Linked DNA regions of Homo sapiens. The protein of the gene in region 2 interacts with the protein of the main gene of each other region in a pairwise test. Each region holds a gene or a part of one and is shown on either strand. Other genes may lie near its edges.

What was found. Proteins that work in one complex are often made in the same cells at the same time.
Region 1: the proteins of TTC3 (region 2) and CEP290 interact in a two-hybrid assay, tested with the Homo sapiens proteins (one large-scale study listed by BioGRID and IntAct).

The regions. Positions count from the first base shown.
Region 1 is NC_000012.12:88,076,037-88,079,932, reverse strand, and holds part of CEP290 (centrosomal protein of 290 kDa), read left to right. Parts: intron 1-703; coding exon 704-841; intron 842-2,014; coding exon 2,015-2,236; intron 2,237-2,588; coding exon 2,589-2,711; intron 2,712-3,896. UniProt on the Homo sapiens protein: Involved in early and late steps in cilia formation. Its association with CCP110 is required for inhibition of primary cilia formation by CCP110.
Region 2 is NC_000021.9:37,076,032-37,079,927, reverse strand, and holds part of TTC3 (E3 ubiquitin-protein ligase TTC3), read right to left. Parts: intron 1-3,896. UniProt on the Homo sapiens protein: E3 ubiquitin-protein ligase which catalyzes the formation of 'Lys-48'-polyubiquitin chains. Mediates the ubiquitination and subsequent degradation of phosphorylated Akt (AKT1, AKT2 and AKT3) in the nucleus.

The sequences.
Region 1 (3,896 bases), on a different chromosome or scaffold from region 2:
ATCTTAATGTACATTACAAAAATATAATATATATTACATTGTATTTTCTTTTTTTCTACTGGAATTTTATGCTACTGAGGCTATTTTTAACAAATGAACAATTTTGAACAATTTGAGGGATTGAGGGAAGTATGATAATGACAAAAAGGGATGAAAAAAGGGGGTCATAGAGATGTTTTTGTGAGAAGGAGTTGGTCAGTGTATTCTGATTTATTAGGGTTTTTTTTAGTTTATCTCAGATTTGATCTATTTAAATTGTTTTAGAAGATGCTGGTGTTTTTCTGTGCTAGCTATGAAATTTATGGGTAAACTTTAAGCCTTTCCTAGTCCTTTTGTTGTCTACCTAAATTCAATTAATTTCATATGGAAGGATGTAGTAAGTGAGTAATATAAATATCTAAAATTGGATGTTTGAAAACAAAACATACCTGTTTTTTGTAATAGCTTGATTTAATGCTGAGTTCTCAAAATCATTATTAAGATTTTGAACTTTCACATTCAATGTGGAAAGAATTGAGTGTAATTACAAAAGATTTATTTGAAAAAGTTGAGTTGTTAATTTGTGAAATATGTTCCATTAAACTCATAATATTTTAGAAAAATAGTAGGAAGTAATAAAGCTTGTTTATTTTTTATATCATATATTCATATAAAATGTCAGTTTTCCTTTAAAAATTACATTTTTTTTTTGGTTAATTTTTAGGCACTTAGTCGGGCACTTTTAGAACTCCGGGCAGAAATGACAGCAGCTGCTGAAGAACGTATTATTTCTGCAACTTCTCAAAAAGAGGCCCATCTCAATGTTCAACAAATCGTTGATCGACATACTAGAGAGCTAAAGGTGAACATCAACACGTGTTAATGTAACAAAATTTCTGATAATTCCTATTGGAAGAGAATTCACTATGATATATAGTAATTTTGTTGATGAATAGGGAATTTATAATGCACTGTTGGTGGCTAGACATAGACACACACATGCATTTTTCAACAATAAGTCTCTTTATGATACTCATTTACTGATTATCATCTTGGGGATTAGGAAAGGATAGGCCATTATGAACTACTGTTTCTAATGAAATTAAATTTAAGAAATATTTTACTTAGGATTTTTTTTAAGACTTTATTATTTTTTTAGAGCAATTTTAGGTTCACAGCAAAATTGAGAGGAAGGTACAGAGATTTCCTGTATATCTCCTACCCTGAAAGTGGTACATTTGTTAAAATTGATGAACCTATATTGATACATCATAATCACCCAAAGTCCAAGTTTACCTCTATTTTAGCTCTTGGTATTTTACACTCTGTGTGTTTAGACAAATGTATAATGATATGTATCCATCATTATAGTATTATACAGGGTATTTTCACTGCCCTAAAAATCTTCTGTGCCTCTCTTCTTCATTCCTTCCTCTGCACCTCACCAAACCCCTGGCAACCAGTGATCTTTTTACTGTCTCCATAGTTTCACCTTTTCCAGAATATGTTATAGATGGAAACATACAGTGTGTCCCCATCATTCTCACCATAGGACAGCTAGGAACTCCTTTCTAGTGGCATACATATTGTCTAGTATTGTAAGTTACCCTTTTATATCTTATCTTTGTAAACTAGGTTAGAAATTACTTCAAGTCAGAGATTTGTTCTGTACTACTCTTATGCTTCATAGTGTTTAAAACGTTGTCATATATATTGTTATATACTTGTTTGTTTAATTAATTCAGCCAAAATGAAACGTGCATATTTGATAAAATTTTGTTTGTGGGTGTTTGTTGAAGATGAATTGCTTTACACTAGTTTTTTTTTTTTTTCTCAAAGTCGACTTTTTTCCTCAAGGTAGACTTGACATGAATATGGAAAAATATATGTAGTTTGTGGTTATTTTTTTTCTCTTGTGTACTTAAAAATTCAGACTGAATTTTTCTTATAATGGTATATTTTCTGTTTTATGTTCCTTTTATCATTGATACTTCTTGAAGAGTCATGAATAATACCTTTCTTTTTCTCTTATTAGACACAAGTTGAAGATTTAAATGAAAATCTTTTAAAATTGAAAGAAGCACTTAAAACAAGTAAAAACAGAGAAAACTCACTAACTGATAATTTGAATGACTTAAATAATGAACTGCAAAAGAAACAAAAAGCCTATAATAAAATACTTAGAGAGAAAGAGGAAATTGATCAAGAGAATGATGAACTGAAAAGGCAAATTAAAAGACTAACCAGTGGATTACAGGTAATTTTATATTTAACTCTGATAATGTCTGATTTACAATATAGAGGTAGTAGTTTATTTCTACTTTATCATTTTATCTATGGTATTTGTTAAAACTGACTTTCAAATCACTTTGATTAATGTAATTAATTTCTTTTGTGACTTCTATTGTGTTTATAGTTCTAGAGTAGCATATTAGTATGTTGTATTAAAATGCAGAAGCAGCTACCAGATTATCTTATGTATTAAGTGTCATTTAGAAAGTATGGTCAGTGATAGCTTCAGAAAGTTGCTATTATATAATTGAAATATTTACTGTCTATTTTGTTTTACATTTATTTGTAAAAATATAAAGTTACATTTTATTTTTTAGGGCAAACCCCTGACAGATAATAAACAAAGTCTAATTGAAGAACTCCAAAGGAAAGTTAAAAAACTAGAGAACCAATTAGAGGGAAAGGTGGAGGAAGTAGACCTAAAACCTATGAAAGAAAAGGTATGTGAAGAAACATACTGACTTATATGCTTAAGGTAGTGACAGAGTAAGTTAAATACATAGCTGATTAACAGTTAATATACTGCCTTAATTTGATGACCTGGCTGTATTAATTCTGTATTAATTTTGAGGACTATAAGCAGTATTGAATAACGTAGAAAAGTCTAAGTTTCTGTTCTGTAGGAATTTAGAGTCTACTTGAGGAGATACCTATAATGTAACTCTTATTTGGAAATTACTACATCAATTTCATTCATCTTTCTGACATTAGAGTACCTCTGAAGTTCCTTCACACCTTAACATATTCAACTGTGTATCATTTCTCTCCAAAGTAATCATTTACACAGGTTGGTGCTTTTGACTTTTGGGACAGAAAGATAGACATTTTAAGATACCCCACTTTGACCCAAATAGGTCCTTTTTAATCCTTCAGGAGACTAGGCTGTTATTTCAGATAGCAAAGTTATTTGGAATATCTTCAGTATTTGCAGTAATAATCAGTAACCAATCTGCTCATAGATTAATTCTGTGGGAGAAATTGCTTAAAATTTTATAGTTCATAGTAAACTGTTTTGTAATAAAAATTACTGATTGAAATAACCCCAAAAAAAACTAAAATTGGCTAAAATGCGTGTAATTAAATTTGTTATGGACAATAAATTGGAGATAACTTGTTGGTAACATTCAAAATATCGAAAGTGAACTGGGAAATGTTGATGTTAGCAGTAATATTTGCCATTGAAGAAAATCAGTATGGAGGAGCTATGGTTAGGAAAATTTTTATTATAAAATTTACCCAGAAAATATTTAATGTCTATAAAATAATTTCAATCACATGAAAATGGAAAAGAAAATTCTGTCTTTAAAGGCATTGAATAGAAAATAGGTAATGGAATTCAAATTTCTTAATAGAGTATGCTCCCAAAATTATTTTCTATGAAAATTCATTAATGTCAGTGTAATTTATTGACACTATTTGCGTGGAGTCACAACATGCTTGCTGTCAGAAGCTTTGCTGGTGAAAACTGTAAGATCAAAGTGTCCTTAATCTTTTGGATTTCCATCTTTCTAACTCCCTAATTGGGGATAGGCCTGATCTTATCCCTAAATGGGGATAGGTTAGAAACTGGTATGTTTGTTCCTAACTGGTGTGTTTCTATACCAGTTTCTAACCTGATTCCTATC
Region 2 (3,896 bases):
CAAGAAAGAGAAGTCAGACATAAATAATATTCAACATGAGAAAAGGGGAACACATATACAAATAAAACAGAGATTAAAAAGAGAATTAATGCCATACCACGAGCGGTGGCTCACACCTGTAATCCTAGCACTTTGGGAGGCCGAGGTGGGCAGACCACTTGAGGTCAGGAGTTTGTGAAGAGCCTGGCCAACATGGTGAAACTCCGTCTCTACTAAAAATACAAAAAAATCAGCCAAGCATGGTGGCGCACGGCTGTAATCCCAGCTACTCAGGAGGCTGAGGCAGGAGAATCGCTTGAACTCAGGAGGCAGAGGTTGCAATGAGATGGCACCACTGCACTACTCCAGCCTGGGCAACAGAGGGAGACTCTATCTTAAAAAAAAAAAAAAAAAAAAAAAAAAAAAAAAAACCATACCATAAACTTGATGAAAGGACAAATTTCTAAAACTTACCAAAACTGACTAAAAGAAATAGAATACCTGAACAGTCCTATGACTGTTCAACTGCTAATTACTACTAAACCTCCAAGAAGAAAACATTAGATCCAAATGACCTTATAGTTAAGTTCCACCAAGCTTTTAAGAAACAAATCACTCCAATCCAAACTCTCCCAGGGAACAGAAAAAGAGGAACTATTCTCTAACTCATGGTATAAAGTCAGTGTAACTTTAATACCCAAGTCAGATAAGACAGCCAATAAAGAAAAATGAGAAGTGATTCTAGCCATAAACAGACACAAAAATCTAAATAAAATATGAGCAAACTCAATCTAGTAGTTCATAAAAATATAATCTATAAAGACCAATTTGGGTTTATCTCAAGAAAGAATATAAAAGAAAATGAACAGTTTTAAATCTATAAAACGGAATTCATTACATTTAACAGATTAAAGAAGAAAAGACACAAGATATTCTCAACAAATGCAGAAAAGCATGTGACAACTGAAAAGACTTCCCTAACTTAATCAAAGGTATCTACAAAAATTCACAGCAAATGTTATTCTCAGCTGAGAAATATTCTCTTTAAAATTGAGAACAAGAACTCTATGCCCACTATAATCGCTTCTAATGAACAACCCTAATCACTTCCATTGAACGTAAGTATAAAGTATGCCAGCACATTTAAGACCAAAAAAATGAATAAATTAAAAGCAAAAATAACTAGAAGAACTAAAACTGTCACTATTTGCAAATGATATAATTATCCACACAGAAAACACAAAGGAATTTCAGAAAAAATATTAGAAGTAGTAAGTTTATCAAGTGGATGACTAAAGGGTCAATATTTTTAAAAATTCATTAAATTTCTATTTAACAATAAGTTAAAATATTTACTAACAATAAATAAGTTAAGATAGAATCTTTAAGAACACCACCATTTATAATAGCAACAAAAACAATAACATCAGAATTAACATATGAAAAAGTGGAAGACCTCTATGGAGAATATTACAAAACTACACTAAAACTTTACATAAATAGAGATACATACCATATTCTTAAAAATAAAAAGGATCAAAATCTTAAAGATTTCGATTCTCCCCCAAACTGATTCAATTAATTCTAATTAATACCTACAGGGTTTTTCATGTCATGTAACAAGCTAATTCTTAAGAACAAATGACCAAAAATAGGTGAGATTCAAGTCCTCCCCAGATACCGAGATTTCAGGTAAAACTATAGTATTAATGATTAAGACAGTGTGGTATGAACACAGAGACAGACAAGGTGACAAGTGACACAGAAAGGCAAGCCAAAAACAGACCCATGCAGGTAGTAACTAAACATGTAAAAGAGATGGCACAGCAGACCACTGGTGAACAGAGGGCCAATTCAATACATGGTACAGGGATAATTAGAACCACACAGGAGAAAAAAAAAATCAATGTGGATCACTATCTCAGAACATACACAAAAATCAATTCCAGATAAATTATGAACTTAAATGTGGAAGACATCATTTTAAAACCTCTAAAAAGAAACAGAGGAATGTCTTTATAAGCCCAGGGCAAGAAAGGTTCCAATCAGATTATGTTAAAATTAAGAACTTCTGTTCACCAAAATACACCATAAACAGTAGAAAGACAGGCCACAAACCAGAAAAAGATATTTACAACGCACATAATCGATGTTACCAGTTTTAAAAGACAACTCATCAGAACAAAGGGTAAAATATATGACTAGATATTTCATAAAAAGGAAACAAAGACAGTTCATAAACATACAAAAGATGCTCAATCTCATTAATAACAAAAAATGCAAATTAAAACCACAATGATGCATCATTTCATACCCATTCCATTGGCAAATATTAAGTCTGACAATAACAAGTGTTGGAGAGGTTGTAGATCAACTGTAACTCTTACACACTGTTGATCAAAGTATATAAACAGACAAAACTGCTGGCCAAAGTACAAACTGATACAACCCCTTCAGAAAGTAATCTGACATTATTTTGTAAAGCTGATCATTCATACCCCTTGATCTAGCAATCCCATTTCTAGCAAACAGCTTACTATAGTGATACGGCAGTATTTCTTTCTCTTTTCTTTTTCTTTTGCTGCTGAACAAATTAACATGGTGGTATTTCAACCTTTTTTTTTTGCTCGCAAACCACCAAAAGTGCTTTTTAAAATTGCATACCCTTTACCCATTAAGATGACATTTAAAAAATATCACCATAAGATTAAATAATTGCAAAGGGTGAATTTCTAGAACATCACAGTAACATTTTAAAGTAAAACTGATTATCTCATTCTTTTAAATGTATAATTATTACCAGCATATGGTTGGCCAAAAAATATACCCTGATAACATAAAAAAAAAAGCAACTTTATTGGAAATATCTCTCTTAAGGAAATGGATGGGGAAGTGCCAGGATTAAAAGAGGCTTTCCCTAACACTATAGTGGTATTTTAAATTATCCCTTTGTAGGCCAGGCGCGGTGGCCTGTAATCCCAGCACTTTGGGAGGCCGAGTCGGGCAGATCACCTGAGGTCAGGAGTTCAAGACGTGCCTAGCCAACATGGTGAAATCCCGTCTCTACTAAAAATACAAAATTAGCCGGGTGTGGTGGTGCGCGCCTGTAATCCCAGCTACTCAGAGGCTGAGGCAAGAGAATCACTTGAACTTGGGAGGCAGAGGTTGCAGTGAGCCGAGATCGTGCCATTGCACTCCAGCCTGGGCAAAAAGAGCAAAACTTCACTCAAAAAAAAAAAAAAAAAAAAAAAAAATCCCTTTGTTTTCCCCAAGGGAGTTTTCCCCCTTTGGGCAATGCCATAGTAAGATTCCACAAGAACCTGTGGTTTGCCTGTCTTATGTAAAGTGCAATGTTAGAAACACAAGGTAAGAAAGTAGCACTAGCAGGAGGCCTCAGGCATTACCATTTTTAGGAAAGAGTACCTATGGAATGTAATGATCTAGAAACTGATTCATTAACATCATTTGTACCCACACATTCCTTAGCAAATCTTCATTACTCCTCTGGGGCTCATATACCCCAGTGTGAAAATTAGAAAAATTCTTACAACTGTGAACCAAAAAGTATATAACTTCATAACAGCAAAACCTAGAAACAACCAAAATGCCCATTAACAGAAGAATGCATACACTGTGTTATATTCACACTTGGAATATTACACAGCAGTGAAAATTAATGACTTACATCTATACCCAATATTAGTAACTCAGAAACATAACATCAAGTGAAATAAGCAAGTCCCAGGAAACTATACCCAATATGATTTTTTCCACTCAAAAACAACAGAAACCATACAATACATTTTTGAGGGATGTATACATATCTGATAAAATTATTTTTAAAAACAAGGCATAATATACACAATTCAGGATGGTAGTCACCTCTGGAAGTAAGCACATTCAATACTGGTCATTTT